4 linked regions of the Homo sapiens genome follow. The protein of the gene in region 1 interacts with the protein of each later gene in a pairwise test. Each region holds a gene or a part of one and is shown on either strand. Other genes may lie near its edges. The genes, in order: TXK, EFHC2, ZNF835 and JRK.

Region 1 (7,770 bases):
GAGTGAGGCGTGAATATGAAAATGTTAGAGAATGTTGCAAAAATAAAACGGCTAGACCTGCAAACACTAGCCACATGTGGCTATTTAAATTTAAATTCCTTAAGATTATATAAATGTTTAAATTCAGTTACTCAGTCGTGCTAGCCACTTTTCAAGAACCCAATAGCCAGAAGTGGCTGCCATATTGGGCAGCACAGATATAGAACGTTTCAGCATCTCAGAAAGTACTCTAGGACACCACGACCCTAGAGATATATTTGAATGACTTGACATGTGTGAGGTAAAGAAAGGGCTGGGAGAAGGGGCATCTAGCATACCAGGCTCCCAAGCTCAGTTCAGGGTATCTATGACACCTGAGCCATTATAGAAAGGAGGATTTCAGTCAGAAAGCAAAAGGCATGTTTTCATGAGGGACTTTGAAGGTCTTGGGGCACAGGTTGTGCTTTCAGTCTCAGTCAACAGAAAAATAAGAGTGTGGAAGTCCCTCTCACACATAGAAAAATGATTGCTGAATATTCTTACATTTTAAAAAGTTTTAAAAGCCTGTGATCTTTGCACAGTTTTTGAGTCAGCAACTCTAAAGGAAGATATTCACCATAAGTGACCCCATATCCCTGGTCATGGAGCCAAGGATTGGAGCATTTTTTCCTACTTCACTTAGGGGTGTGGTTTAGCTCTGATTCCAAGAGGAAGAAGAGATGGCACTGTCAGCATCTTTTAAAACCATGGGAAACAGAGCTACTCATAGTAGCCACATTCTCACAGGGGTCATTGACAGTAGGGTCAGCGGAAAGACACCCCTCTTCATGGCTTATAAACAGAGAGCATCAGTAAAATAAACAGAGCAGAAGACAGCACAAGTGCAAGTGAGGGTCCTTATTGAGACTCTGGGCATAAATTGTGGAGCTCTGTGAGGAGCCTGTTTCTGCGCATGAATCCTGAAATTTGTCTCTCAAAGATAGCATAATCACGTTTGACTCTAATGCCCTAAGCACATGGGGTAAAGCTGTAGGCAATATCAACTTTTGCACCTGACATAATGACTCACATCTGTAATCCCAGCACTTTGGGAGGCCAAGGTAGGAGGACTGCTTGAGGCCTGGGCAACAAAGTGAGACCCCATCTCTAGAAAAAATTTTAAAAAATTAGCTGGTCATGGTGGCACATCACTGTAGTCCCAGCTATTCAGGAGGCTGAGCTGGGCGGATTGCGTAAGCCCAGGAGGTCAAGGCTGCAGTGAGATGTGATTGTGCCACTGCACTGTAGTCTGGGAAACAGAGCAAGACTCTGTCTCAAAAATAAATCAATCTTTTCTTTTCTTTTTTTTTTTTTTTTTTTGAGACAGTCTGGCCCAGTCACCCAGGCTGGAGTGCAATGGTGGGATCTTGGCTCACTGCAACCTCTGCCTCCCAGGTTCAAACAATTCTCCTGCCTCAGCCTCCTGAGTAGCTGGGATTACAGGTGCCCGCCACCATGCCCAGCTAATTTTTTTGTATTTTTAGTAGAGACGGGGTTTCACCATGTTAGCCAGGCTGGTCTCGAACTCCCAGCCTCGTGATTCGCCCACCTCAGCCTCCCAAAGTGCTGGGATTACAAGCATGAGCCACCACACCCGGCCAAATCAACTTTTTCAAACAAATAAATCGACATAACCACACCATTGTATTAATCAATGTTCTGATTGCAATTTGAGACAAATGTTGTTTACATGGTCCTTCTGACAGCATCCTACTTATCACTTCCCTTCCTCCTTCTATGTCTCAGTTCCACTTACATATAACATCTCAATAAGCATTATATTACACACACACGTGTGTATTATTTCATACACAACATATACTTCTGAGCTACTTACATTGTTATTGCAAAGATGCTCCTAAAACGGCTGCTTATTACTACTCACTGAACATTTTTCTGAACATTTTTTTCTTACAGCTTGCTGAGCATTTTTCTATGTCTTTCAAGATTCCTTGTAAAGTAGTTAATATATGTAAAATATTTTCATACATTGGGGCTCTCTATAAATGTAATGCTTTTGGAATATGAATAACCACATCACTCTTAAAATATTCAATATTCTAGTGTTTGTGGATTGATAATCAAGTGCTTTATTTTTTCAGCCAGGAGGAAACTTCTCATCAAGCTGCAATTTCCAGCTGAAACTGTCAGCTGGAAAGAGACCAAAGCTCTCAAAATCAAAGGGAATTTCACTGAGAAGGGCAGGGGTGTGTTGAGTCAGTGCCCAGAGGTGGAAAAGAAGCCCCTCTGGCTTTATTTCTAAGCTTGGCATTTCAACAAATAGAAAAACTAAGTTCTGGAGAGATTTCTTCCTGAGTGGAAGTTCCTGACACACTTTCTGCCTCCATTCCTATTCTAGTTTAATCTGTAGCAGGAGTCCTGACTGCCAGAAGACAGATGAAACCCATTACTATTAGCGTTGGAAAAGCAAGACAAAGCAAAGTTGAGTGAAGTAAATGGAAACACCATCTTTCTTTTTCAACCTGGAAATTTAACAAGCCTGGTTCTACCCTTAGTTTCCACCATTAATTCTTTTATTTATTTGCTTATTTATTTATTTATTTATTTTTTGAGACAGAGTCTTGTTCTGTTGTCCAGGCTGGAGTGTAGTGGCGCAATCTCAGCTCACTGTAGCCTTTGCCTCCTGGGTTCGAGCAATTCTCCTATCTCCGCCTCCCAAGTAGCTGGAATTACAGGCATGCACCACCAGGCCTGGCTAATTTTTGTATTTTTAGTAGAGACAGGGTTTCACCATGTTGGCCAGGCTGGTCTCAAACTCCTGACCTCAAGTGATCTGGCCACCTCGGCCTCCCAAAGTGCTGGGGTTACAGGCGTGAGCCACCACACACAGCCTCCATCATTTAATTCTTTTTTTTTTTTTTTTTTTTTTTGAGATGGAGTCTCACTCTGTCGCCCAGGCTGGAGTGCAGTGGCGCCATCTCGGCTCACTGCAAGCTCCGCCTCCCAGGTTCAAGATTCTTCTCCTGCTTCAGCATCCCCAGTAGCTGGGATTACAGGCATGCACCACCACGCCCGGCTAATTTTTGTATTTTTAGTAGAGATGGGGTTTTACCACGTTGGCTGGGCTGGTCTCAAACTCCTGACCTCAGGTGATCCACCCGCCTCGGCCTCCCAAAGTGCTGAGATTACAGGCATGAGTCACTGCGCCCGGCCCATTAATTCTTAAAGCTAATAAAACATCTAATCACTGAGGCTTGAGTAACACCAAGAGTTTCTGCAAGAACCAATCTCAAACAGATAAGACTCAGAAAATGCACTGAATTCCTCAGATAAAAGGCCATTGTTCAAAACAAAATGGATTCATGACTTTGTAGTGAGTTTGAGATAGTACTTCAGACTCTCAGGATCATGACCAAGACACAGATGCCTTTTCCTGCCATGACAGAGTTCTGAAGTAATGTTTGTGATAATCAGGTCTGCTCTCAGATGCTGGGACTGCCAACCTTCATAGGAAAGTAACATATGCTTACCTCATGCCAGCAGCTGTACATGACTTCATATATGGACATTGGTGCCAGGTGAGGGCGATATAGCCTGAAGCCTTCAGAAATAGCTTCCACGACTTGCAAATTTGACTTATTTTCAAAAGGCATTTTTCCTTCTGTAAAAACTTCCCACATTAAAACTCCTGCAAACAAAAATGCAGGAAAACAAGGGGTTAGAGAGAAATGATTGCTTGGGAACTGAAAGAACAATTTCAAACTACAAGGCATTATTTTTGTGCTCCAGGCTTTGGGCTATAACCATCCTGAATAACAGCGGTTCTGTCAAGGAAGCAAATCATGTTCACTTTAGTTTTCAAAGAGGCCTGTAACCTGAAAATAATCTAAGTGAAAACAATGCCTTTCCTTGTCCATGGGTCTTGATTGCCTCTCCTATCAGGAGAAAATGCCAGTAGCATTTTCTTTTCTTTTTTTTTTTTTTTGAGACAGGGTCTCGCTCTGTCGCCCGGGCTGGAGTGCAGTGGCATGATCTCAGCTCACTGCAACCTCTGTCTACCGGGCTGGAGTGCAGTGGCATGATCTCAGCTCACTGCAACCTCTGTCTCCCGGGTTCAAGCAATTCTTCTGCTTCAGCCTCCTGAGTTGCTGGGATTATAGGTGCCCACCACCACGCCCAACTAATTTTTCTATTTTTAGTAGAGGCGGGGTTTCACCATGTTGGCCAGGCTGGTCTCGAGCTCTGACCTCAGGTGATTCGACCACCTCAGCCTCCCAAAGTGCTGGAATTACAAACGTAAGCCATCACGCCCGGCCTAGCATTTTCATTTCTAAGCAGCAGTCACGTTCCTGCATCCTGAAATCAATGAACCTTTCTGCCATTCCATAGAAACTGACAGGATTATGTGAGCCTCTGCTGCCTACTTAGCCAAGAGTTTCAGCCAGTAAATGGCATGTGTCCCCTTCTTTCTGCTAAAAGATTAGACTGATGGGCAGAGCCCCAGAATATCTAGCAGGGGCTCTGTACATAAGTAGATGTCCAATAATCATTGATTGATTGATTAGTGAAACTCCTGCAAGAACTCCTAATTTGAGTTCATTTAATTATTCACTTATTCTACAAATATTTACTAGACATTGATGAGAGGCGAGGCCTCTGCTGGGGCCTGGAGATTTTATAAGTGTGAGATCAATCCATGTGCCTAAGGAGCTCACTGTTCAGTGAGGGAGACAAGTAGGTAAAATTCAGGGAGTTCTAATTGTTTGGCAACCTTCGATGAGGTCGTTATATTGCTCTTCATTGGTCTCTAAGATGTGGTCTCACAACCTAATTGCTCTTCAGTAGAGCTTCAAGTGTCACCTGCTGAGACTATCATATGTCCATGGAGAGCTAATGAGATTAATGACACAAGCTTAACTTTATTGTATGTTTTTAAATTTATGTTTTAATTTTTTTGAGGCAGGGTCTTGCTCTGTCATCCAGGCTGGAGTACAGTGGCACGATCCTAGCTTACTATAACCTCAAACTCCTGGGCTCAAGCAATCCTCCTGCCTCAGCCTCCCGAGGAACTGGGACTACAGGTATATGCCACCACACCTGGCTAATTTTTTTTTTTTTTTTGTAAAGACAGAGTCTTGCTAGGTTGCCCAGGCTAGTCTTGAACTCCTGGTCTCAAACAATCCTCCCACTTCAGCCTCCCAAAGTGCTGGAATTGTAGGCCTGAGCCACTGTGCCCAGTTTTAACCTTATTGTAGACAATAAAACTGACACCCTTCTGAGGACCCAGAACCCACAAGCCTCCAGGAAGTTTGGGGTGAAAGAGGATAGATAGATTTTTGCATATTTATTACCATTTTTTGAAAATCAACCCCGAAACTTCATTGGACGTGGGTCTATGGTGTCTCTTTCTCAATGAAGAACATTATCCAATATGAATATCAATTTATAGATCCCAAGGAAGCCTATGTCTAAATTCCACAAACTTTAAAGTTAAGGAAGTAAATGAGATGCCACCATTTTTTAAACTCAGGTTTTAAGTTCAGGTTAACAACTGAACAACTGGAAAATAGTCAACCTGCTTCACAGTTTAGACAATTAAGTTTATTAATTACACTCTAAACAATGTCATAAGATCATTTTTCCTTCAAGCCTCTGCGGAGTGGAAAACTTATCTGAGTTTGTTTTCTAGATCAGTAGACTCTTTGTTATGGTTTTATAGTGAGTGCCCATGGAGGAAGGAAAAGATCCAAAAGGCAGACTTATGTAAGAAGGTATGTGACACCAGTTGCCAAAGACAGTCGGGATGTGGTTAGAACACACAGAAGGAAGCACAATTACAAGAAGACTTTTTAAAAAATGCTATATCAATTAGGAAATCAAAGTTAAAAATAACACATTGCCCATTTTATTAAATCAAGCTCCAGCAAGTGAACATCAGATGCACTCACCAAATGACCAGACATCAGATTTACTGCTGTACTTATTGAAAAGAAAAACTTCAGGAGGGGACCACTTGATTGGGAACTTGGCTCCAAAAGAACTGACATACTCATCATCCAAAACGTACCTAAGTTTATCAGATTCAAAGCATATTGTGTTAATTACCTCCAAGCTCTATTTACTTCAAATCCCTTTAGTTAACTCTAAGTTGCTAAAAGACAAAGTATTTTACCCCAGAAAGGTTGTGGATGCCTTCTTGTTAGTAGAGTGTGAAAGTGTCCCTGATAATGTTTCCTCCCCAAACAAAGTCTCAATTGTATTTGTTTTACGTGGACCTCTGAAAATCATAATGCTGCTTCAGTTCAAAACATGGCTCACTGTTTATGTTAATTATGGTAAATTCTTAACTCTACAAAGAAGCCTGCTAAAGGCTCTAACAACCAAGATTATAAAAAGGAAATAAAAGACCACTCTTCCCAGGGGTGGGGAAAACAAAGACCACTCTTCTTAAAATGGAAATGAATGATTCAAAGTTGGATGTCGAATTTTCTTCCATGTGCATGTTTTTTTGTGGGGCATACAGAAGGGGGGAAAGTAAAAGTATATGAACATAATGCTTCTGATATGACAAATCTCTAATGCACTAGAATGGCCCTATATGGAAAGAAACCAAGAATAACTACCGTCTCCTTAAAAAAATAACAAGTTGAACCCTCTCTCTTTTTTGAGAATTGTACACCGGGATGTCCAAATGTCAGACACTGAGGAGAAGAGACAAAAATAAACTTGTGCTTGTTGCCCCTTAAATATACAATATAGTGTTTTCACAGCATTTATTAATGCTGCCCCTATACTCTCACTTTTTTTTTAAATACACTACCTCCCTCCACCTGTCAGCACTTTATTGAGTCAGAGGTCATTCTACTTAGGTAAAGAATGACTAACAGAAAACAAAGAGAGAAAAGCCACTGTTTATAGATTTTGAATTTTTCAAGTCTAGGCTCTTCAGAGAAGAAAGATTGAGTTATTAACAAAATATCTTGGAAAATGGGCCATGAACAGGAGTGAGATCTCACTACCACCACCCCTATTACCACCACTATCTAGAAAAAGATCCCCTGAGCTTTGGGGGGATCTTTTTCCCCCAAAAAGAGGAATGGGGGAAATAGAAGGGAAAGAAAAGGGGGGTACTAGACATTAGTAGATCAGTGGGTTAGGGTCCTGTATCTTGTACCCTAAAGGGCTGCCCAAGTACTTTAGGAAAGAAGCTCCTACTCCCACATTAGGTTGGTGGGATTTAAAAGTGACACAGAACCAGTGCTCTTTTCCCCAGGTGGAGCCCTTGGAAAGGCAGAAAGATGCCAGTGAACAAATGGCTGTGGATGTGCCTAGGTAAATGAGATCTGAGATCACACCATGGAGTTTTGTAATCATAAAGAACGCCGGCCAGGTGAGACTGCTCACACCTGTAATCACAGCACTTTTGGAGGTGAGGTGGGTGGATATTTGATGTCAGGAGTTCAAGACCAGCCTGGCCAACATGGTGAAACCCCGCCTCTACCAAAAATAAAAAATTAGCTGGGCGTGGTGGCATGTGCCTGTAGTTCCAGCTACTCGGGGGGCTGAGGCAGGAGGATAGCTTGAGCCTGGGAGGTCGAGGCTGCAGTGAGCCGAGAGAGCACCACTGCACTCCAGCCTGGGTGACAGAGTAAGACTCTGTCGAAAAAAAAAATTGCCAGTTCTGAATGAATCTTGCAGAAAAAATTCAGTACGTGTTAGCAGCTACCTGTTTGAATGGCCAGCCAAAGACAAGACCGGAGGATGGTGGCTGCAATGATGCCATGCACACAG
Region 2 (7,770 bases), on another chromosome or scaffold:
GACTTTCTTCATCCTTTATATTCACTATTGCTAAAACAAGAACTATTTTGTTCCACAGCAGCAGCGGAAGACATAAGCAGGAAACTAATTCCAGAGAAGATTCCCCCAAGCTGTGTTTATTTCCATCTATGTTTCAACCATGGTTGCTGCAGGTAGAGGCAGCAATGGACAATCACCTATTAAGGACCCGGTTTGTGTAAGGAAGGCACTGAGAACGTGAAGGGCAACCCAAAGAGCCACCAATCACAGTTTCTTAGTCAACTGAGGACTGCCACGATCACACATAAAGAACACAAAACACAACGCAGGAAATAAGGCGGTAAATGGGCAATATGAGCATGCAAGCTTATGTAGACAGATGGTTCTTGCTGAGATGATCGGGGAAGGCTTTAATGAGGAGGGGGGATTAAAGCCAAGTTTTGAGGGAAGGTCAGGATCTAGATGGGAAGAGGAAGAGGCATGAGGATGCTGCTATCAGGCAAGGGGACAAACAAACTAATAATTGAGTGGAAAAGTCCAAAATATACCCAAAGGACAAACAGTGAACATGCTGGATTAACTGGAGTATTAGGCTTGTTTCCCATTATGGAAAAGAAGATAGTTTACAAAGAACAGTATTCTTGGTATCCTTCGCAATATTGATATACTCATGTGTTACTTGTATAATTTAAAAACACAAATTGTAATGAAAGGGATACTACTAAGTCTGACAATACCAGACTCACAGGTATTGTCTGTGGCTGGTGTGACAAAGTTTGTTGGCCACTATTGAACCCTCTTTTCCCTTTCCCACCTCCAAAAGTAGATGGTGAAAAAAAAAACAAGATAATTTCCCAGCATTCCTTGTAGTAAAGGATGGCCATGTGCATCAATTTTAGCAAATAAGATGGAAGGAGGGAATCTACTGGGGGGCTCCTGGAAAACATTTTGTTTTCTCATATAAGAAGAGCTGTTTCCCCTCCCTCTCCTTCCTGCTTGTCTTGAACATGGTTACATGTAGTTGTGATGACTGGAACTGAGGCAACTATTTTGCAACTATGAGGTCACAAGCCTAAGAAAGAAAAGCCAATATTCTGAAGATGGCAGAATGCAGAGATAAAAAGAGCCTGGGTTCTTTATGACATTCATCAGTCACTGCCTAAATCTGAAACTGCTACACCTCTAAAGTTCTTATGAGAAAATTAATTTGGCTTAAACCACTGTTAGTCAGGTATTCTGTGACTTATAGTCAAATGTACCCTAGGTGACAGAGCTACGAAGTTCAGTACAGAATGCATGGTGACCAAAATTAGGTGTTTGAATCCTACATAGGCAAAGAGACTCTAATTCCTGAAATTCAAATGAACATTTAGGAATAGCAATGGAATATGTTATTTCCAAAGTATGGATGGCAGCTTCAATAAGCGGCCCAATCTGAAATAATGTAATTTCAAGGATATTTTAATAGTTACTGGGAACAAAGTGACAGAATTCTTTATATCAAAACTATCCTGTGATCTAGCATAGTAGACAGCAATTGTTTTGTCTGCCCAGCAATCCCATACCACCAAAACTGGATTATTTGCCTTTTTGTTTGTTTGTTGGCTTTTTGAAATGAAGTTGCACTCTTGTTGCCCAGGCTGGAGTGCAATGGTGCGATCTCGGCTCACCACAACCTCTGCCTCCCAGGTTCAAGTGATTCTCCTGTCTCAGCCTCCCGAGTAGCTGGGATTACAGGCATGCGCCACCACGCCCGGCTAGTTTTGTATTTTTAGTAGAGACAGGTTTCTCCATGTTAGTCAGGCTGGTCTCAAACTCCTGACCTCAGGTGATCCGCCTGCCTCAGCCTCCCAAAGTGCTGGGATTACAGGCATGAGCCACCGCACCTGGCCTATTTGTCTTTTTATTATTGAGTTTTGGGAGTTATTTACATATTCTGAATATAGTCCCTTATCAGATAATATGCTTTATAAATATTTCCTCCCACACTGTCAGCTGCTTTTTCACTTTTCTGATAGTGTCTTTTGAAGCACAGTTTGGCTATTTATTGCAACATTATTGGATAACAAAAGACTGGAAATAATGTAACTGTACACCAAAAGGGGATGGTTGAATAAACTATTGTAAGTCTACAAAATGGAGTACTATGTAACTATAAAAAGAAATGAGGAAGAGCCCTATATACCACTACCAAGTGATCTCCAAGATATACTGTTAAAATGAAAAAAGGAAGGTTCAAAAGACTGTGTAGATTATGCTACCAAGTATTGAATAAAAGGGGAACATGTGAATAAATTTAACAATTTGCTGTTTTAAAAATTAAAAAAAAAAGAAAGAAGAGAAGGAGGAAGAGAAAGAGGATAACCTCAAACTAAATAAAGTTTTTTCTTTAAGTTATTATGGAGAGAGGGAGAGAATAAGATTGAAGAGACAGAGATAAAAGCTAGAGCTCTCTGAAAGTAACTTACTTTGCAAATTTGACTTTGAGACCATACAAATGCCTTTTTTTAAGTTCAGAAACAAAAGCACAATGAAACAAATGAACCTAACTAGATACTGAGTTGGTGACTTAACCATACCGACAGCAATGATTTAAATGAAACTAAAACCCAGTAATTTGACTATACATTCCTGGTGGGATATACTCTCACAACAGAAATAGCTATAAAGAAATCTTAAACTATTTTCAAAACTCAAATTGTTAATAATGTTATTATTAATTAAAAATTATTATATGGTTGTATATTTTTATTTATGTTAGGATAAGTAATTCAGCTAATGTACTTATGAAGCAAGATTACATGTAAATATATAAAATCAAAGAAGTAAAAACCCTATAATCCTTAATTTGCATTGAAAACAATAGTTTTTGAACTCATGTTATATTTTATCCTTAAATATATGTACATATTTTTTAGCCTTGCTTTAAGAGAATGAAAATTCAAGCCATAGACTGGAACAAAATATTTACAGACCATACATTCAATAATAGACTTGCACCCAACTTGTATCCAGACTATATTAAAAATGACTTTCAAAACTCATCAGGCGGATCGCCTGAGGTCAGGAATTCAAGTAAGGAAACTCCCCAATTAAATATGAGTAGAAGACACGAACAGACATTTCACCAAAGGGGATATACGGATGGCAAATAAGCACATAAAAAGATGTTCAACATCATAGCCATTAGGGAAATAAAAATTAAAATCAAGAGGAGATACCAGGCCGGGTGTGGTGGCTCAGGCCTGTAATCTCAGCACTTTGGGAGGCCGAGGTGGGTGGATCACCTGAGGTCAGGAGTTCAAGACCAGCCTGGCCAACATGGTGAAACCCCGTCTCTACCCAAAATACAAAAATTAGCCGGGCGTGGTGGCACACACCTGTAATCTCAGCTACTCGGGAGGCTGAGGCAGAAGAATAGCTTGAACTGGGAGGCAGAGGGTTGCAGTGAGCCAAGATCGCGCCACTACACTCCCCTGGGCGACAGAGTGAGACTCAGTCTCAAAAAAAAAAAAGAGAGAGAGAGAAAAGAGGAGATACCACTATACACCTATTAAAATGGCTAAAATCCAAAACACTGGCAATACCAATTGCTTACAAGGATTTGGAATAACAGAAATTCTCAATCATTGCTGGTGGGAATGCAAAATGGTAATTTCTTATCAAGATAAACACACACCTACCATATGGCCAGTTCAAAATTTACATAAAAGTAAGCATCCTGCCATTCATAGGAGAGCAATGACCATTTTGCTATAATTTTCAACTTCTTATACATGTAAGCAAAGCTTTCCTTGTTTAACAAGTATTGAAAAGGCCAGAAATCTTCTCATTCCAGTTGAAAATGAAATTGATGTGTGCTTATTTCAAGCTTGACCCGGAATTATTTATGTGGCAAAATATAAACACAGATTTCAGAGTGGAGAGGTAAATTTTATTATTTATTTTTAGCTTTTAAAAAATAAGACTGTTATGTACATACAGGTCTATAAAGAAATCAAGATTATAATTTTGTAACTGCCTATATTTAAGCCCAATCATGTCAGTCAGTAAAAGAACCTAATTTTTAAGTCTTGTATAAAATTATATCTTAGGTTATATTTTTACTCATAATGCTTTGTCATATAGTTTTAGTAGCTTTATTATGTAACATTGTCAATACATTTTGATGTTGAAAACAGCATTAATTACGAGTTTACAACCTTTATTTAAATTAAATCATCTTAGCCTACTTTTTGAAAAAGTAAATTCCATCTTAGATATAAACAGAAATAACTTGAATTATTTAACATGTTTATATTATGCTGACTGAAAAGTTTTTTGAATGTATGGAAAGGAAAGAAAGGTAAGCTAAGTTTAACTATCTGTTTTGGGTTTTTTTTCCCTCAAAAAAGCTGGTAAAAAGTCCTTTTCAGTTTTTAATAGGGGAGAAAACTACTTTTGTTCATACCATATACCATATATCATTCCTCAATAGCACCCTCTATAATAGAAACTATAGAGAACTTTTAGGCCTACTTGGATAAGGTAAAAAGGAAAAATAAATCAAGTAGAAAATTTTACCATAAAACAACCTGAAGTTTCCTCTTCTACATTCCCACTTGCTTTAGGGTTGATAACCCTTTGTGAGAAAGGGAAAGAGTAGGTAAATAAGTTGGCTGAAATCAAGAGATCCACAGAAAACTACCATTTTTTACTTTAAAAAGACAATTATTATTGGATTATTATAGCTACAATATTCTCATTCCAGTTGAAAATGAAATTGATATGTGCTTATTTTGAGTTTAACCCAGAATTATTTATGGGAATTTATTTATTTCACATAAATTCGGAACTGGCCATATGGCAGGTGTGTGTTTAACTTTATAAGAAATTACCATTTCGCATTCCCACCAGCAATGAGTGAGAATTCCTGTTATTTCAAATCCATGTGAGCAATTGGTATTGTGTTTTGGATTTTAGCCATTTTAATAGGTATACAGTGGTATCTCATCTTGATTTTAATTCTTATTTCCCTAATAGCTATAATGTTGAACATCTTTTTATGTAATTACATATTTATTATCACAGATTGTGCTAATGTACCATGGGCTATAGATATAGTTTTTATGCAGGAGTTCTCTAAGACCTCAAAATCATTTCAAAGACTCCTCCAGGGTGAAAAGATTGAGATTTGAGGTGATGAAAATGTTCTGAAACTAGTTAGAGGTGTTAGTTGTTGCACAACAGTGTGAATGTACCAAGTACCACTGAATTGTATACTTTTAAATAGTTAGTGGTTAATTTCATGTTACATGAAATTTACCTCAAAAAATTTAAAAATATACATTAAGAAAGGCTGACAAGGCTCTTTGAAGGGTGAGAGATGAGATCTGACCTTGAAAGAAGCTGAAGATCTAAATTTAAATAAGAATTGCCCAGTCTGGACAATACAGTGAGACCGCATCTCTACAAATAATAATTTAAAAAATTAGCTGGGTATGGTGGTGCATGTCTGTAGTCCTAGCTACTGTGGCAACAGAGGTGGGAGGATGTCTTGAGCCCGAGAGGTTGAGGCTGCGTGCAGTGAACTGTGAGCTGTGATCCTGCCACTGCACCCCAGCCTGGGAGAAAGAGCAAGACCCTATCGCAAAAAAAAAAAGATGGAGATGGCTCGAATGAGTGTTTTTCAAACACTGATTGCACAACCACAGTAATAGGCATATTTTAGTGCAGGCCAGTTCACATACATACACAAGCACACACAGGAAGGACAAAAAGGTCCGTGCAACACTTAACTCCTCTCAAGCATAATACACTCTAATTCTTCATTCTACCCCACTCTCTTCTTTTTCTTTTTTCCTTTTCAAAAAAAAAAAAAGCTGGTCATGATTCATTAAATTCCTTTTTTTTTTATTGCTGCAAATTCAAATATGTTTTCTTTTTTCTTAAGGAGGACTTTGCTTCACTACAAATTAGATGATGGGCTATTTACAGCAAACCCTCCTAAGATGGTGGCAAGGTAGCTTCATTAAAAGCAGAAAGAGCGGCCAGGCGCGGTGGCTCACGCCTGTAATCCCAGCACTTTGGGAGGCTGAGGCGGGTGGATCAACTGAGGTCAGGAGTTCGAGACCAGCCTGATCAACATGGTAAAACCCCAATTCTACTCAAAATACAAAAATTAGCCAGGCGTGGTGGCACACACCTGTAATCCCAGCTACTCAGGAGGCTGAGGCAGGAGAATCGATTGAACCTGGGAGGCAGAGGTTGCAGTGAGCCGAGATGGCGCCATTGCGCTCCAGCCTGGGTGACAGAGCGAGACTCCATCTCCAAAAAAAAAAAGCAGAAAGAGTGAGCTCTTCATCATTCATTAGAGACACTCAGGATCAGGATGGGCCACACAACCATCTGTCCAAAATACTGCAGAAAGGATTTTTGGCTTTGGCTGGAAATGTCCCTTTTAATTTTAATATTTTCAATTTTGATAATATGCCCAAGATTCTCTTGCTCAATACAAGTTCAGCATGGAAATTGTTGGAAAAAAGATACAGTGTATCTAGAATTTAGTTGTGATATTTCCCTAAGGTTTTCAACTCATATCAAAATAATTGTAATGTCATCAGAGGTACAAATGTTCATATTTTAGAAGGCACCATACTTCTTGTATTTGAGAGAGAGAAATACAGGTTGCGTATCACCTAGCCGTGGACAGAAATCAATCTATTGCTTTTGACTGACCACTGGCAGCTAAGTAAGGGGCACATAAGTTCCTTTTCAATTCTATGGAAAAGCAATAAAAGTTAGCTGTGTTATAATTTTAAATCCAAACAGCCAAGTAATTATGCTATCTACAGGAGGCCAAGGTTTTTCACTTGGTAATTTAATTCAGCAAGCAGGGGAGGGGGGAAGGGCAAGACTAAAAGGCCAGATATGGCTTTACTGACTTTCTAACCATTCTATGCCAGAGAACATCCAATCTTTTAACTAAGTACAAGTTTTTAAAATATTAATTTGTGGGCAACACACAGTACATTTAGTACCAAGGCTAGTGTAACAATTTTTTAAATGTAGTCACCTAATTTTGGCATATACTAGGATACTCAATAAATAAATACTGATTTGTTGAATGAGTCCAAGGTACTGTCATTCTCTAGTACACACGCACATACACACATGCACGCACACACTCCCATTGTTCTCAGGCATAAAGTAAATAAATGTTTTAAATATTCATGAGTCTAGAAATAGACCCACACGTAGCTGGATGCTTGATTTTTGACAAAGTGGCTCTGCAGAGACATGGAGAAAGAGTGATCTTTTCCAAAAATTATTCATCAAAAACATCATTAAGAGAAGGAAAAGGCCAATCACAGACAAGAAGATACCCAAAATTTATATAGAACTTCTACAAATCACTAAGAAATAGGCAGACAACCCAGTAAACATTAGACAAGAGATAAGTAAGTACTACACAAAAAAGTAGTGACCAATAAATGGTCATACAAATAAAGCCAGGCACGGTGGCTCACGCCTGTAATCCCAGCACTTTGGGAGGCTGAGGCGGGCGGATCGCCTGAAGTCAGGAGTTCAAGACCAGCCTGGCCAACATGGTGAAACCCCGTCTCTACTAAAAATTAAAAAAAAAAAAATTAGCCAGGCATGATGGCGCATGCCTGTAATTCCAGCTACTCGGGAGGCTGAGGCAGGAGAATCGCTTGAAGCCAGAAGGCGGAGGTTGCAGTGAGCCGAGATTGCACCACTGCACTCCAGCCTGGGCAACAGAGCAAGACTCCGTCTAAAAAAAAAAGCAGT
Region 3 (8,209 bases), on another chromosome or scaffold:
TTTCTGCCTGACATGCTCTTCCCGCAGCGTGTGCCTCAGCAAGAGGACAAGAGGAGACCCTGAGGGAGTGATGATGTTTGTGTTCAGGGTGGAGAACACAGCAAGTGCAAAGGTCCCAGGGCAGGATGGTGACAAGGGTGGCAGAGGAAAGGTAAAGGGGGTGGGGCTGGACAGAGCAACTGAGGTGCAAGGCAGGGGAGATGCGGTAGAGTGGGGTGGGGGTCAGCTCACACAGGAAGTCACGTGTGCTGGTAAGAACTTGCTGGTGGGGGCCAGGCTGGGTCGGCTCAGGTGCCACGTCCACCGGCATCCCCGGAGTGTGCAGGGGTACCCACCTCGTGTGTAGGGGGAGGGCAGGTGGGTTCACAGCGGGGTTGGGTAAACCTGGGTGTTGTGCACACACAAAGGAGCCCAAGGGGAGACACAGGCTTGCTTGGGGGCAGTAGAAGAAAGCTGTCTACTCCCAGCACTTCTGACACGTGGGCTTTCTCCACACCAACAACCAAGTCTCCAATCTGCTCTGACTGGGAGGCACAGGCAGCTACCAACCATAAAACTGCCTCAACCCCTCCTTGGGTTTGGTGATTTGCTCACATAGCTCATTGAACTCAGGGACATGCTTTATTTACGGTTACTGGTTTCCAATAAAGGATACAACTCAGGAACAGCCAGATGGAAGACACACAGGGTAAGGTATAAGGAGGAGCTCAGAGCACCATGCCCTCTCTGGGTGCTCGACAGCCCCAGAGCTCGGCAAACCCTAAGTTTAGGGTGGTTATGGGGGTTCCATGACACGGGCGTGACTGACATAGGTGTGATGACACTGGCCATCGGTGATGAACTCAACTTCCAGCCCTCTCCCCTCCCAGGAGGTAGGGGCTGGCTGAAGGCTGGAATGCTCATCAGGGCTAGCTCCCGTGGCAACCAGCCCATCCTAGGGGCCTATCAGGAGTCCTCCATTAGCATAAATGTACTTGGGGGTCTACCAGGAGTCCTCCATTAGCATAAATGTACTTGGGGGCCTATCAGGAGTCCTCCATTAGCATAAATGTACTTGGGGGCCTACCAGGAGTCCTCCATTAGCATAAATGTACTTGGGGGCCTATCAGGAGTCCTCCATTAGCATAAATGTACTTGGGGGCCTATCAGGAGTCCTCCATTAGCATAAATGTACTTGGGGGTCTACCAGGAGTCCTCCATTAGCATAAATGTACTTGGGGGCCTATCAGGAGTCCTCCATTAGCATAAATGTACTTGGGGGCCTATCAGGAGTCCTCCATTAGCATAAATGTACTTGGGGGCCTACCAGGAGTCCTCCATTAGCATAAATGTACTTGGGGGCCTATCAGGAGTCCTCCATTAGCATAAATGTACTTGGGGGCCTATCAGGAGTCCTCCATTAGCATAAATGTACTTGGGGGCCTATCAGGAGTCCTCCATTAGCATAAATGTACTTGGGGGCCTACCAGGAGTCCTCCATTAGCATAAATGTACTTGGGGGCCTATCAGGAGTCCTCCATTAGCATAAATGTACTTGGGGGCCTATCAGGAGTCCTCCATTAGCATAAATGTACTTGGGGGCCTATCAGGAGTCCTCCATTAGCATAAACACAGGTGTGGTTGCAGGGGGCTTATTAAGAGTTGCAGAAGACACTCCTTCTACCCCTGTCACTCAGGAAATTCCAAGGGTTTTAGGGGCTCTGGTACCAGGAGCTGGGGATAAAGATTAAACATATATTTCTTATTATATCACAAGATCACAGGAAGACACATGCATTACATCACACTCTGACACACACAGGGTCATACACAATCATACCTGCCCAGACACACACAGACATGCAGAGACACCCAAACCCATATCCAGGGACACACAGTCGCCCTCCTAACCCCCATGCAAGGAGGCAGGTGGGAAGCCATCACCTGCAGCCACACTCACACATGCACACAGGGTCCCGGGCACACGTAGCTACACACACACCCAGCCCCACACGTAGCTCCCTGTGTGAAGAGGTGCACAGAGACGCACAAGGTCACACATGCCACCTGCTCCACACAGGCCGGCCATTACTGGGACACACCCACAGGGGATGGCTGGACACATGTGCAGTCACACTCGGTGGATAGAGCTCCAGCATAGCCAAAGCCCACATGTGCAGCGTCTCCATCATGTGCAGATGCACACACTTCAGACAGCACGGCACTCTACAGGCTCGCACAGCCAGGTCACCCATCATTGTGCTGGCAGGCACACGGGCCGAGCCAGCCTACACGGCGGCACACCCAGACATGCACACGTGGGGTCACACACCTCACATCCAGGAGAACTTTCAGACTTGCCCAAAGGCAGCCACACGTGTATGTGACATGCTGTGATATGCAGACACCGCTTCACATGAACGAGCACATAACACACCGATAAAGTGTTACATGCCTTTACCTGCAGTCACCTGCCTGGGCTGGCACCACTGAGTGAGCAGGTGCAGACACAGTGACACTCGGGGACGGGCTCACAGGCAGTCACACACCTGCAAGGCCTGGCACCGCCGAGTGAGCAGGTACAGACACAGTGATGGGCTGGCACCGCCAAGTGAGCAGGGGCAGACGCTGTGACACTCAGGGACGGGCTCACAGGCAGTCACACACCTGCACCTGCTGGTACCGTCGAGTGAGCAGGTGCAGACGCTGTGACACTCAGGGACAGGCTCACAGCCAGTCACACACCTGCACGGCCTGGCACCGCCAAGTGAGCAGGTACAGACACAGTGACGGGCTGGCACCGCCGAGTAAGCAGGTGCAGATGCAGTGACAGGCTCACAGGCAGTCACACACCTGCACCTGCTGGTACCGTCGAGTGACCAGGTGCAGACGCTGTGTTACTCAGGGACGGGCTCACAGGCAGTCACACACCTATACGGGCTGACACCGCTAAGTGAACAGGTGCAGACACAATGGCACTCGGGGACGGGCTCACACGCGGTCACACACCTGCAGGAACACGCGCACACTACACACCGTTGCTCTCGCCTCCCGGTATCACCTTCGAACGCGCTGGCCGGCCCCCTCCTAGCCTGGTGCAGTCGGCTCCGCTTCTACTCAGTCTCGGGTCCTCCTGGGCCAACGCAGACCCTGGTGCCTCCTTCCTTAGACGAGCTAAGGTCAAGACTTCTGCTGCTGCGGAGGAGCCCGCGCACCAGGCCGGGGTGGACTGCGCCTGCGCATCGGGCCCGCCTGGTTCTTAGGAACTACGACTCCCAGGGGGCGCTGCGCGCTCGCCGGCACCGCGACTAAAGCTTGCAAAGCCTGGGTCATCGAAACTACAACTCCCAGAAGGCTAAGCGTCTGCACACGCTAGGTCCGCAGGGCGCTGACCCCTGGGGGCCCGAGGAGCGCCGGGCTGCTGCCCCGAGCCCCGCCCACTACAGCCTCAGTGCATGGCGGTGGGCGCTTCCAGTAACTCAGGGGTGGGACTTTTTTCTTGCTCAGGGGATGAGGCCGAGCCCACAGGCTTAGAAAGAAGGAACTTGAGTCCGGGCACCTGTCATCCCAGCGCTTAGGGAGGCCGAGGCGGGTGGATCACCTGAGGTCAGGAGTTCGAGACCAGCCTGGCCAATATGGCGAAACCCCCGTCTCTACTAAAAATACAAAAATTAGCCGAGCATGGTGGCATGCACTTCCAGCTACTTGGAAGGCTGAGGCGGGAGAATGGCTTGAACCTGGGAGGCGAGGGTTGCAGTGAGCTGAGATCGCACCACTGCACTCCAGCCTGGGTGACAGAGCGAGACTTCGTCTCAAAAAAAAAGAAGAAGAAAGAAGGAAGCTGAGGTTCAGACAGGCTAAGTCCCTACTGCAGGCTGCGGAATCTAAAAAGGTAGGTGCCAGGGTTTGCAACCCACACTTTTATTTTGGTCTCAGGTAGCTGATGTCATTCCAGTCTATGGCAAAGAAGGTGGCAAATCCATTAACATAGATGAAGAATTTCATTTTACTTTTTAGTTTTATTTATTTATTTATTTTTATTATGTATCATGCTTTTAATACAAACTTTAAAAAATCTGGAACAATAGAAACTGTACAGATTTGATCAATCTTTTTGTTTTGTTTTTAAACTAAAATCTCTAAACACACCAATGTCCTATTCCAAAATATTGCACAACATTCTGAATACAAAACCCTTGATTGTATTCCTCCTTCACTGAAGAAAAAACTTCATGACCCTGCTCCCCGGGCTCCTCTCCAGGCTTGCGTCAATGCCCCCTTCCCATCCCTAGGGAGAAAACTAGAGAATCTATAACTCACTGCATTGAGAAAAAGACATCATTCTGGACTAACAGTTTCCATTCTTCAGAAGATAATCCACCTTTTGATTTGTTCCTGGGAAACAGGGATAGATAGAGGATGGGGAAAGGGGAGAAAAGGTTTTATTTCTCCTCTTTTTTTTTTAAAGTTTGTTTTTCCTGAAAAAATATGTTTCTCTCATCTTTTTAAGAAAAAATCTTGAAAAGAAAAAAATTGTTTTTACGTTAGAAATATACATATATTATATATACCTCTTACATTTTACAAATGTAGCAAATTATTCAATACAAACGGACACCAAAAAATGTAAAAAATAAAAAAAAGTTTTCCTAAGAACCAGGTAAATTAGTGCAGATTTCTGTTTTTGTTTTCTTAAAAAAAATAAAATTGAAGCAAAAGTGCCTAGATTTGAGACAAGACAGACTGAACTGGGCCCAAGAGCCCAGCACTGGAGTCATGCTCCTGAACACACATTTTTCTTCGTATTTCAAAAGACACAAAGGGGTTGGTCTCCCCCCCTCTCCCTACATGTGAGAAACAAGCAGACCTGGTGTGGGTGGGTGCCTGTGTGTGTGGATGGGAGGAGGGATAGAAGGGGATGTAAGGCAGCATCCAACCTTTCCCAGAGAGAAGCTATCTGCTGGGCCTGTCACCTGTGTGGGAGCCGAGGATGAGGGAAAGGGTGGCCCAGACTGGGCTGGCCCCTGAGAAGTCTAGGGGAACAGATGGTGCTGGGCTGAGAAGCCAGGACATTGCCTGCCGGGGGAGGTAGAGCTGGTGCCTACTGCAGGGAGAGGAGGCTGGCAGTGCCGGCCTGGGCTGGACCCACTGCCATAGCAGTTGCCTACTTGGGGTCCCTGGGTAGGATGGAGTGGGTGGGGTGCCAGGGGCTTTGGTGCTTTCTGGTGATGGGACCCTGATGCCAAGTGCCCACTTTGCAAAGATGAAAAAGTTCATGACCCTGCTCCCTTGGCTCCTGTCCATGCTTGCCTGGCCTCCTGGGGTTGGAGGAACAAGCTCTCTCCTGGCAGAGGCAGGAGAGAGTTTTATTTTTTAGAAACAGTTTCGCTTTGTTGCACAGGCTGGAGTGCAGTGGTACAATCACGGCTCACTGCATCCTCGACCTCCCCAACTCTAGTGATCCTCCCATCTTAGCCTCCTGAGTAGCTGAGATTGCAGGCATGTGCCACCACACTGGCTAACTTTTTTTTAACTTTTATTTTTTGTAGAGATGAGGTGTCGCTATGTTGCCCTGGCTAGTCTTGAACTCCAATCCTTCCACCTCGGCCTTAAATAATTTTAATAGTTGACATGCACATGGCATTTACTATTGGCCGGCATTATTTTAAGGTGCCTGCTCTGAAGGAATTCTGTTAGCCTTCCTAAATTATTCCCTTGGCCATTGGAAACATAGGCATGAGATCATTTTTAGATAATTGGAAAAGCAGAGAAATCTGTGAAGATAGAATGGGAAAAAAAATGCATTTCACTAAACCAACATGCCATTGATTGTGAGATTCCACATTACTTTATGTAGCCCCACGGCTGCCCTTAAACCATGACACATGCTTTATTTACAGTTCATATTTTACTTATTCGTAGACCTCAAGAGGCATTCTGTGCTTCCCTCTTCCTTCTGGAAGCTTCATGAGAAGGGACATTTTCCTCAAAGGATGGACAACAGAAACAACTCAAATATTCATTTCCTTTAAATATGGTTTTTAAGACAATTTTCTTTAGAAAGCCACATTTACCTGTTGGGGGTTGATTTATGCTCACCCCCCTCCCAAATATATGTTGGAATGCTAACCCCCTATTCCTCAGAATGTGACTTTATTTGGAGACAGGTTCTTTACAGAGGTAATAAAGTTAAAATGAGTAAATAGGGTGGGCCATAACCCAAAATGACAGCTGTCCTTATAAAAAGGGTGCATTTGCACGCAGAGACACGCATAGAGAGAACATGATATGTAGAGGCACAGGGAGAAGGCCGCCATCTGCAAACCAGGGAGAGAGGCCTGGAGCAAATTCTTCTTCATGGCTCTTAGAAGGAACCATCCCTGCCTACACCCTGATTTCAGATTTCCAGCCTCCAGAAGCGTGAGGCGATAAATGTCTGTTGCTGCAGCCACAGGTTGGCGGTGCTTTGCTGCAGTAGCCTTAGCACCTGATAGATGGTCTCTTTACATGTCAAGCACATTGCAGCGCACATTTGACACACAGGGAGATGGAAGCTCCTGGAGGATAAGTGTTTTGTCTGTGATTTTGAAGGTTGCAAGTGGAGGAACTGGGATTCGAACCCCTCTCTGTGTGATGCCTATGCCTCCTCTGTGTTAACATTTATTTTTACTTATTTTTATTTTTTAGTTTTTGTAGAGATGAGGGTCTCACTATATTGCCCAGGCTGGTCTTGAACTCCTGGGCCCAAACGATCCTCCTGCCTTGGCCTCCTGGTCTTGGGATTACAAGCATAAGCCACTGTGCCAGGCCTACACTTTAAAGCACTTTGCCTCTTTAAAGCACTTTGCCTCTTTCATTTCCTAGCCTGGAGAAAATGTACTTCTGTGGTCACTAAGAAAACACCTTCACAATCAGGCAAAAATGTCCCCAGAAAATGCTGGCTTGGGCTGCTGAGGAAATGCACAATCAAATCAGGCCACACAACGTTTCAGAGACCCTGAGGCAGGGACTCCATGTCCCAGCTATGTTTGTCACACACCAGTAGGCAGCCTCTACCCAGGGGTGGAAGATTCTAGACCCAGCTATAGGCTCTGGCAACCAGGGCAGGCAGCTCCTTCCAGGAACCGGTTTCTGTGGTTTTCTTTGGTCACTTCCATTAAGTCTTAAACACCCCCTGGAAGAAAATGAAAGTGTGACGTTGAGGAACGTGAGATCAGATGGTGGAGTAGTTTTCTAGAGCCACCATAACAAAGCATCACAGACCAGGGTCTTAAACAATGGAAACTTATTTCTTCACAGTTCTCAAGAATGGAAGTTCACGATCAAGTTATGGCCAAGGTTGGTTTCCCCTGATGCCTCTCTCCTTGGCTGGCAGACGACCATCTTCCCCATGTCTTCATATGGTCTTCCCTCTGTGTGTGTCTGTGTCCTAATCTCTCCCACACTCTTTTTTTTTTTTTTTTTTTTTTTTTTAAGAATGTCAGCCATGGGCCGGGTGTGGTGGCCCACACTTGTAATCCCAGCATCTTAGGAGGCTGAGGCGGGTGGATCACCTGAGGTCAGGAGTTCCAGACCAGCCTGGTCAACATGGCGAAACACCATCTCTACTAAAAAAAATAGAAAAATTAGCCAGGCGTGGTGGCAAATGCCTGTAGTTCCAGCTACTCAGGAGGCTGAGGCAGCAGAATAGCTTGAACCCGGGAGGTGGAGGTTGCAGTGAGTGGAGATCACGCCACTGCACTCCAGCCTGGGCGAGAGACTGAGACTCCATCTCAAACAAAAAACAAACAAACAAACAAAACAAAAAACAATGTCAGTCATATTGGACTTGGGACCCATGCTAATGACCTCATTTTATCTTAATTCCCTTTCTCCATCTCCAAGTACAGTCACATTCCAAGGAATGGGGGGTTAGGACGTCAACATAAAATTTGGTGGTGGGGCACAATTTGGCTCATCACAATGGGTAAAATGGGGCATTAAGCTCACATCCTGAATCTAAAACCCACAAGAGGCTGGAGTACTTTGCTTTCCCTGGTTCATGATCACCGTGCTAACTGGAGTGTGGTCACCTTGAAATTGGCTTAGAGGAAGATTTATGATATCCTCCCAAGTCAAGGGCTCAGGCTCTAAACACCGGCTTAAATAAGAGCTGAGTGAAAGTCCACAAATCTTGTTACATCAACTTCTGCTGGACTTTGTTGGACAGATGCTGAAGTCCTCTGTGGAG
Region 4 (7,770 bases), on another chromosome or scaffold:
GAGTGTTTTCACCTCTGTTTACAGTTGAGTGCACTGCTCAAGGTCATGCAGCTGGTGAACAGCAGGGAGTGAGCAGTGGAGAACGTGAGGCTGGTCATTAGGAGCAGGTAGCCCTGGGTCTCCCTCTGCCCTCAGCAACTTCACACCTGCCCCTCCCTGGGCCCCAGTCTCATCCCTAAACAGGAGTGACCCCACCTCATTTCATGTCATCATCACTGCCCTGCAAGGGAAACAACAGATGTGCAAGGTCTGAGGGTCCATGTGTAGAAGCAGAGGCCAGAGCTGACACCACATGGGCAAAGGAGTGGGCGTGTGGGGCTGGGAGCTGGGGCTCATGTGGGAGGCTGGTGGCTGCCATGGCTGCAGCTCCTGGCCCTGCGGACAGCCAGGCCTGGGGTCTACAAGAGCTGGGCAGGGAAGAGGACAAACAAGGTCTCACAGGTCCATTCTCCCCAGCCTCCCAGTAGGCAGCTGAGTCCAACGCAGTGCCCGAGAGCTCAGCCCTTGTCAAGGAGAGTCCTCGAACCCAGAGGGGGCTGGGTAAGCAGCAGAAGTGCAGAAGCCCTGCCCAGGCCCTGCCTCCCAGGCCACCACCCACCCCTCACGGCTGCCACACCCACCAGCCCATGACTGTCCACATCCTGACCCCTACCTACCTCATGACCTCCCCGACCCTGATCTCCACACCTGACCCCAAAGCACATTTTGTTATTTTTTGTTTTTAGAGATTAGGTCTCTCACTCTGTCACCCAGGCTGGAGTGCAGAGGCCATAACTCACTGCAGCCTCAAACTCCTGGGCTTGGGGATCCTCCCGCCTCGGCCTCCTGAGTAGCTGGGGTTACAGGCACATGCCACCACACCTGGCTCATTTTCTTTTACTTTCTGTAGAGATGGGGTCTCCCTATGTTGCCCAGGCTGGTTTCAAACTCCTGAACTAAAGTGATCCTCCTGCCGTGGCCTTCCAGAGTACTGGGATTTCAGGCAGAAGCCACCACACCCGGATCCCCAATAAGCACATTTATGTGGGGCGTGAGGTGAGGTCCCTGAGGTGCAGTGTGGACGGGTCTTGATTTGTCCCAAGTTGTCGCTGCCCTGTGCCACAGCCTCCCAAGAATGGATGCAGTCTACACCTTCTGCAAACCCCTGCCTCAAACCGTGTCCCTCCACAAGCACATCCAGCCACTGGGACCCTGAACCTCCTCCAAATGGACTTTAACTGGGGACAACTGATGACAGTCCTCCAACCCCAGCGAGCTGGGGAAGCCGTGGGCAGGGGCTGCGACTTCCTTTCTTCCAATCAACTCCACCACTAGCAATCAATCACTTGGCCCACTGGATAAGAACAGTGGCCTGCGACGTCAGGGGCAGTCCAGGTGCTCTCCATCGCATGCTCAGCCATGGCTGAGCACGAATGAAGCATATGGAAGTCACGCACAGACAGGCCCAGGGCAAGGTCTGCTCTAGACCCTCCTATGCAGGAGACAGACAACTTCCAGGACAGCGTGCCTGGGGTGCTCGCAGAAGGCCAGGCTGGCACAGGCAGGACAGGTGTTCTGTAAACCAACCCCAACGTAGAAGGGGCTGAAAGACCACCTACCCATCCTAACCCCTGAATTCACCATGCCACCCTGAAAGTATGGCCTCTCCTGGGCATCCCGAGGGATGGGAGCTCCCAGAGTGGAGGCTGCCTGTCCCGAGTGAGGACACAGGAGCGCCCTCAGGCCTGAGCACTCAGGGGTGCCACCCCAAAGATGAAGGCAGTGGTGGAAAGAGGTTCTATTAGCAGGCTGGAAGCAGCCACAGAGGTCCCAAACCATATGACGCAGCACCTGCTACCCCACGAGCCACTGGAAAACTGAGGCTGCAACTTGCAGGGGCACTGTGAGAAGACAGGGAGTGGCTCCAGCCTGGTGCTCACAGATAAAACGCGGAGGCATTTAAACAGGACCAGAGACTTTCTCGCTCTGCTCTGGCAAGCTCCAGGGCTTCCCAGGGGCCTCAGCAGCCCCAGAAACAGAGTGAAGAGACACAGCCTCACAGAGCTGTGCTGTGGTGTCTGGTACAGCGGGGCTCCACCTGAGAGGGCTTGGGGAAAAAGATTCTGAGGCTAAAACATTCAACCACTTGAGCTTCTGAGACGGGTCAGGAAGTGAAAACAAAGTGCTCGGAGGACACGGCAGTCTCCATAAAGCGTTCTGGGGGACAGGACCGAGGCAAGAGGTATGCACCAGGCAGCTGGGCCCAGCAGCTCAGAGATGAGTACGCTCTGGGCTCCCTAAAAACCTCACTCCAGCAGCGAGCCCAGGTGAGGAGGGGCTGCAGGAGGAGCAGGGCCCGAGTCCCCTGGGTGGCACAAGGGATTCCAGCCACAAGGGCTGCACCTAGAGTCAGGCTCCAGGCCTTGCTGCAGTTGGTCTGGAAGAGGGGCACCCTGAGGACACAGCCACTCACTGGGGACAAGCGCCTACCCATCAGCCCAGCACAGTCAGCACAAGAGCAGATCAAGAACGGGAAGAGCTCAGGTCCTGAAGAGCTACAGTCTGACAGGGACAAGCCATGTCCAGAGGACTCAGGAGAGCCAGCCAGGAGCTCGGCCAGCTGGCCTGCCCATGCCCTCCCCAGCTCCACCCACCCAGGATGTCCTACTGTTTCAGAGCCCTCGGGACATGTTCTAACCTCCTGTGTTGCCTCAAGCAGCTGCAATCCAGCAGTCTTGGTTAAGAGGCTCTATTAGGAGTGACACGTGAGCCCAGAAATGGCACAAAGTACATGATGTGCAGAAGTTCCCCAGACAATGAAGCAAACAGTGCGGGTGACACCACAAAGACAATGGGACACAAATGGGAACTGGGACTGTCGTTCAGCACCGAGATCTTTAAAAACTATTTGGCTTTTATAATCTTCACACATGCATTCAAAGCAAGAAACACACACTTCCAGGACATAGATAGGGCTCTGTCAGCAATGACTTTTGCCCCTGTATCTACAGAGATGTGAAAGTACGAGAAACCACAGCGAGCCAAATCCTCTCCTTCATGAGAACAGAGGTTTCAGTGGAATCAACAGCAGACGCTGGAATGCAAACTACGTGCTGACTCGGCCAAATGATATGAATTTAAGAGAGGAAAAGAATTCAAGGGCAAAGCACTGAAAATAACATAGCAAGAAAAACCTATTTAGGCCGAGTGCTGTGGCTCACACCTGTAATCCCAGCACTTTAGAAGGATGAGGAAGGAGGATCGCTTGAGGCCAAGAGTTCAAGACCAGCCTGGGCAACACAGTGAGACCCTGTCTCTACAAAAAAAATAAAAAGGCGCGGTGGTGCGTGCCTCTAGTCCCAGCTACTCAGGAGGCTGGGGCGGGAGGATCACTCAAGCCAGGGAGGTCGAGGCTGCAGTGAGCTGGGATCACACCACTTCACTCCAGCCTGGTCAACAGAGTGAGACCCTGCCTCAAGAAAAGAAAAGGACAATGCACCTATTTTATGCTCGCTGAAAGACGAGGCTAATCACTGTGGACACAGGGCGTTCTGGAATCTCAGCTGCAGGCAGTGAGTGTTGCCCGTGAAATGGAGATGCCGCAAAGCAACTACAGACATGGAGAAAATAACCACATCCTCTTACAACCGCCTCTGTGAAAACTGACCAGGACAGACAACTCCTCCCCAAAAGTATTACTAACGTGCTAACAGCTGGGGATAAGAGCACACATACTGCTAGAAATCTAAGCAGCCTGTTTTACTGTTTTCAGTGACTTACGTGCAAACCTAAGACTAATCTCTGAATGTCTGATCAAGACGTATTCATGTAAAGGCCATAAGTATGAAATTCTGGGCAACATGGTACATTGGACTCTGAGCCAAAATGCCAAAATACCACACAGGGTCCGTGTCCTCTATCCGGGTGATGAGCAGGGCCTGGTCAGCCACTCCTACTTTCTTCCCAGAAAGGAACTCTACCAAGTCAACTCTCCGTGGGGCCCCCCAACATCTTGGGGCCAGAGCCCATGGGACAGGATCTGCGGGTAACAGAGGATGGTTCCAGAGTCATTCTGCTGAATGAGGCCACAACTGAAGTGAGATGTGCGGCCTGTTCAGCCGCTAGCAGGCCAAGAACTGAGTCCCAGCTCTCGGGCCATCGGACCTCAGGCAACCGTGCTCGGGGTCCACCCAACACGGGGATGGCCGCCAGCCCAGCAGATAGAGCCTTCTGAGACGAAGCCTGTCCAGGGGCGGTGGGCATGGCCTCCTGTCGGCCTGGAGGGCAACTTCTCTCCACGTGGACAGACTGACATCTCCACCCTCTGATACTGCAATGATCAGCCAGCGAACACGAGACCAGATCGGCTCAGCCTGGCCCCCATTCCAGCCAGGGTGCGGCTCTGGCTTGTTCTAGGCTAGGGTGGACCCTTCCAAAACATTTCCTCACTTTCGGATGACACGGCAAGTGATAAAATAAAACCTGTATTGACAGGAACCTCGGGCACAGACCGTCCTGGGCACCCGAGCCACACCCGTGGGCGACCCACTCCTGGAAGGGCTCTTGAGTGTCTGCACATGCCCTCCTGCCTCAGGTGGGGTCGGGGCACAGGACCATGCCACTCCAGGGTGTGGGGAGAAACAGGGCCAGTGGCCAGGGCAGGGCAGAGAAGCCATCAGTTGTCACCTGCTGTGGATGAGCAGGGCAAGGGAGACTGAGCTGTGGCCCCACAGCCACCAGGGCCCTCCTGGAGGGCTTCAACCTTGACCACAGCCCCGAGGGCACCACGCCGCCTCCTCACCTGCTGCTGGCTCCGGAACACGGCACGCAGCGCCCGCAGCTGCCCCACTTCCTGCGCACTGAAGCATGGCTGCCGCTCCGCAAAGCGCAGGACTGCGTCAAAGGCCACGGCCGCCTGCTCCCAGGCCACCTCCTCGCCCTCACCAGGATCTCCTCTGCCGTCCTGGTCAGCTTTCGGAGTCTTTTCTGAACTCCACACAACCTCTGCTGGCGACGTGGCAGCAGGGGGCCGTCCCCCTTCTGCCTCCCTTCCCGCTACCCCCCAGCTGGCGGCCTGGCGCTGGCGAAGCTGGCCCGGGCAGGAGGAGCCTTCCTTCACAAGCTCCAGGATGTGTGCAAAGGACTTGTTGTGGGGCTTCACTGGGAAGCACTCTGCCTCCAACTCCTCCTCAGAGGAGGAGCCTTCGGCAAACGCAACCGACGGCCACAGCTTCCTCCAGGCCCGCCTGAAGACGTGGCTAGGGACTGCGTTCCAGGCACAGGCCACGCTGAATATGGCATCGTTCATGTTGTAGCGGGCGTGGGGGCCCTGCAGGGGGACCGGAGGGTTAATGAAGTTCCTCATGAAATCTCTCCGAATGCCCTGCTCCATGGGCTGCACCAATGAGGCCACGCTGGCAGGCAGGAAGATGGTGAAAACGTTACTGGACACCAGCTCGGCCTCCTGCGGGTGAGCCCGGGAGCTGTCCAGCAAGAGAACGGCTTTGCTGTCTTCCGGCAAACCTATGGTTCTGAAGTGCTCTCTCACCGAGGGCACAAAGATATGATGGAACCAATCGGAAAAAATCTCCTTGTCCACCCAGGCGTTCCCCTGGGCCTTATAGGCGACGGGCAGGTGCTGGATGCCTTTGAAAGCCCTGGGACCGCTGCACTTCCCGATGGCCAAGGGCTTGAGCCTGTGGGAGCCCGTGGCGTTGGCACACATCAGCACGGTCAGCCGGTCCTTGCCCTGCTTGGGGCCAGGCACAGCCCCGCCTTCCGGAGTGGGATTTGGCAGGCACCGCCAGAAAAGGCCGGTCTCATCAGCGTTGTAAACCTGCTCGGCGGACAGCCCGTGCTCAGCAGCCAAGCTCCTGAAAAACGCACAGAACTGCTCCGCGGCCTGGTGGTCGGCTGACTGCTTTTCACTGGATGCATCTAGCTTTTTAATGCCGTGTCTGGCCTTAAAGCGCCAAAGCCACCCTCCGGAGAACACGCAGGGCTCAGTGAGCTGCATCTGCTCGTAGAAGTCCTTGGCCTTCTCGATGAGCATGGGGCCTGACACGGGGACGCCCTCGGAGCGCTTCCCCAGGAACCACTCGTACAGGACGCGGTCCAGGTGCTCCAGCTTGGGCGTGTGCAGCGTGCGCCGCTGCTCCAGCGCCTTGTTGGAGTCGGAGCTGGCGAAGAACCGGAGCAGCTGCGCCTTGTGGGCCCTGATGTCGTAGAGGGTGGACATGCCCACATTGTACTCCTGCATCAGTGCCTTCCGGCTCTCGCCCTTCTCCAGGCGCGTGCAGATGTCAATCTTCTCCTTCAGTGTCAGCACCACCCTCTTCCGCTTCTCCCCTCTGCTCTTCCCGGCAGCCGGCTTGGAGGCCATGGGGAGGGGTGGCTGGTCCTAGCACTTGCAGGACACACGCCTGGCCTGGGCTGCTGCCACTACTTCCCTCTCCTCCTGCTCCCCTTCTGGGGCTCCGTCTCTCCCTCTCCACTCTGCCTGCCTGCTCTGCTGATCCTGAGCACAGGCCCCAGTCCCTCTCGGGTTTCTCACTCCACACGCTGCACCTCCTGCCTCAGGTATCCCTGGTCTTCCAGGCTCCACACACCTAGGCCTTGGCTCCTGGCAGTGCAGTCAGCTGCCAATTCTCTCTGTGGAGGAGGTGACCCTGTCAGACTCCCCTCTGCTGCTCCACACGGCTGGAACTCCGGCCTTCTCTGTGGATACTATGGCAGCGGCTCCCCTCAAACTGACCAGGTTTGGGGTGGTAGAGGTTTTACCGCATAAGCAGCAGGTGCCTCTCCAGGGTCCACAATGGTATCTCCAGGCACAGCACTTCAGGGGCTGGAAAGCAGAGGGAACAGAGAGGAAAGTGATGGGGCGCGCCCAGGACACACATGGCGTCCTCACGACTCTCCTCACCGGGACACTCCAGCTGAAACTCAAGGGCTGTTGAGAGGACCCATGCAAGTGCTGGCATGCACTGTGGGGAGAGGGTGGCCCCGGGAGCAGCCCAGCCTGCCCAGCCCCTGCACGTGCTGCTCAGGTGGACTCTGCCCAACTCCCACCAAGCAAACTGAAGCCATTCGCTAGGGCTGGAAACGAGACGTGGCTCTCATAGGAGCAGCCCGGCCTTTCCTGGGGAAGCGCTCAGGCAGAAGCCATCAGAGGAAGCCAGGAAGTCCGATGCTGGGCGGACCCAAGAACAAACCTCCCACCCGCCCAGCCTAAGCTTCTTGCTGTAACTGCTCGCTGGGCTACCTGAGCTTCTCAAATCCCTTATTCCTCCCTGAGGAGCAGAGGCAGGGGTGGAGGGATGCAGGGAGGAGGAACTCCTCACTACCCTCCCCGCCAAAGATCTTACAAACCCCATCTGGAGCAGGTCTCTAAACTCCTCTCTCCGACACAGAGCGCCAAACTGCCTCTAGAAAACAAGGCATTAGAAGTTTCTCTAGAACAGCAGGCCTCAAGCTCCTCCAAGGGCTAGGAGGTGCTGCCAGTTTCTCAATCACCCTCTGACCTCCCTGACTGCCACACACTCAGATGCGTCTACAAGGAGCCGCAGCAGACAGACAGCTGTGACCATTCCAGGCCTCTTCCAGAGGGGACCCCTCAAGCTCAGCTCAGGGTACCCTGCCCCAGGCAGCCACACTGAGCCGCTGGTCTCTGAAACCCCAGGCTCTAGTGCTGCCCGCCCACCTGGCTCCACAACCACGGCAGGGCCGCAGAGCCTGCCAGACATGGACGGACACGGAGACACACACACACACACACACACACACACACACACA

Evidence for each region.
Region 2: the proteins of TXK (region 1) and EFHC2 interact in binary tests that used the Homo sapiens proteins (3 or more experiments, as listed by UniProt).
Region 3: the proteins of TXK (region 1) and ZNF835 interact in binary tests that used the Homo sapiens proteins (3 or more experiments, as listed by UniProt).
Region 4: the proteins of TXK (region 1) and JRK interact in binary tests that used the Homo sapiens proteins (3 or more experiments, as listed by UniProt).

Annotation. Positions count from the first base shown.
Region 1 is NC_000004.12:48,068,008-48,075,777, forward strand, and holds part of TXK (tyrosine-protein kinase TXK), read right to left. Parts: intron 6,047-7,770; coding exon 5,928-6,046; intron 3,668-5,927; coding exon 3,510-3,667; intron 1-3,509. UniProt on the Homo sapiens protein: Non-receptor tyrosine kinase that plays a redundant role with ITK in regulation of the adaptive immune response. Regulates the development, function and differentiation of conventional T-cells and nonconventional NKT-cells.
Region 2 is NC_000023.11:44,332,903-44,340,672, forward strand, and holds part of EFHC2 (EF-hand domain-containing family member C2), read right to left. Parts: intron 1-7,770. UniProt on the Homo sapiens protein: Microtubule inner protein (MIP) part of the dynein-decorated doublet microtubules (DMTs) in cilia axoneme, which is required for motile cilia beating.
Region 3 is NC_000019.10:56,668,561-56,676,769, forward strand, and holds the start of ZNF835 (zinc finger protein 835), read right to left. Parts: upstream 3,198-8,209; 5' UTR 3,016-3,197; exon of another isoform or gene 2,989-3,015; intron 1-2,988. UniProt on the Homo sapiens protein: May be involved in transcriptional regulation.
Region 4 is NC_000008.11:142,659,698-142,667,467, forward strand, and holds part of JRK (jerky protein homolog), read right to left. Parts: exon of another isoform or gene 7,348-7,770; intron 6,824-7,347; 5' UTR 6,362-6,823; coding exon 4,655-6,361; 3' UTR 1-4,654. UniProt on the Homo sapiens protein: May bind DNA.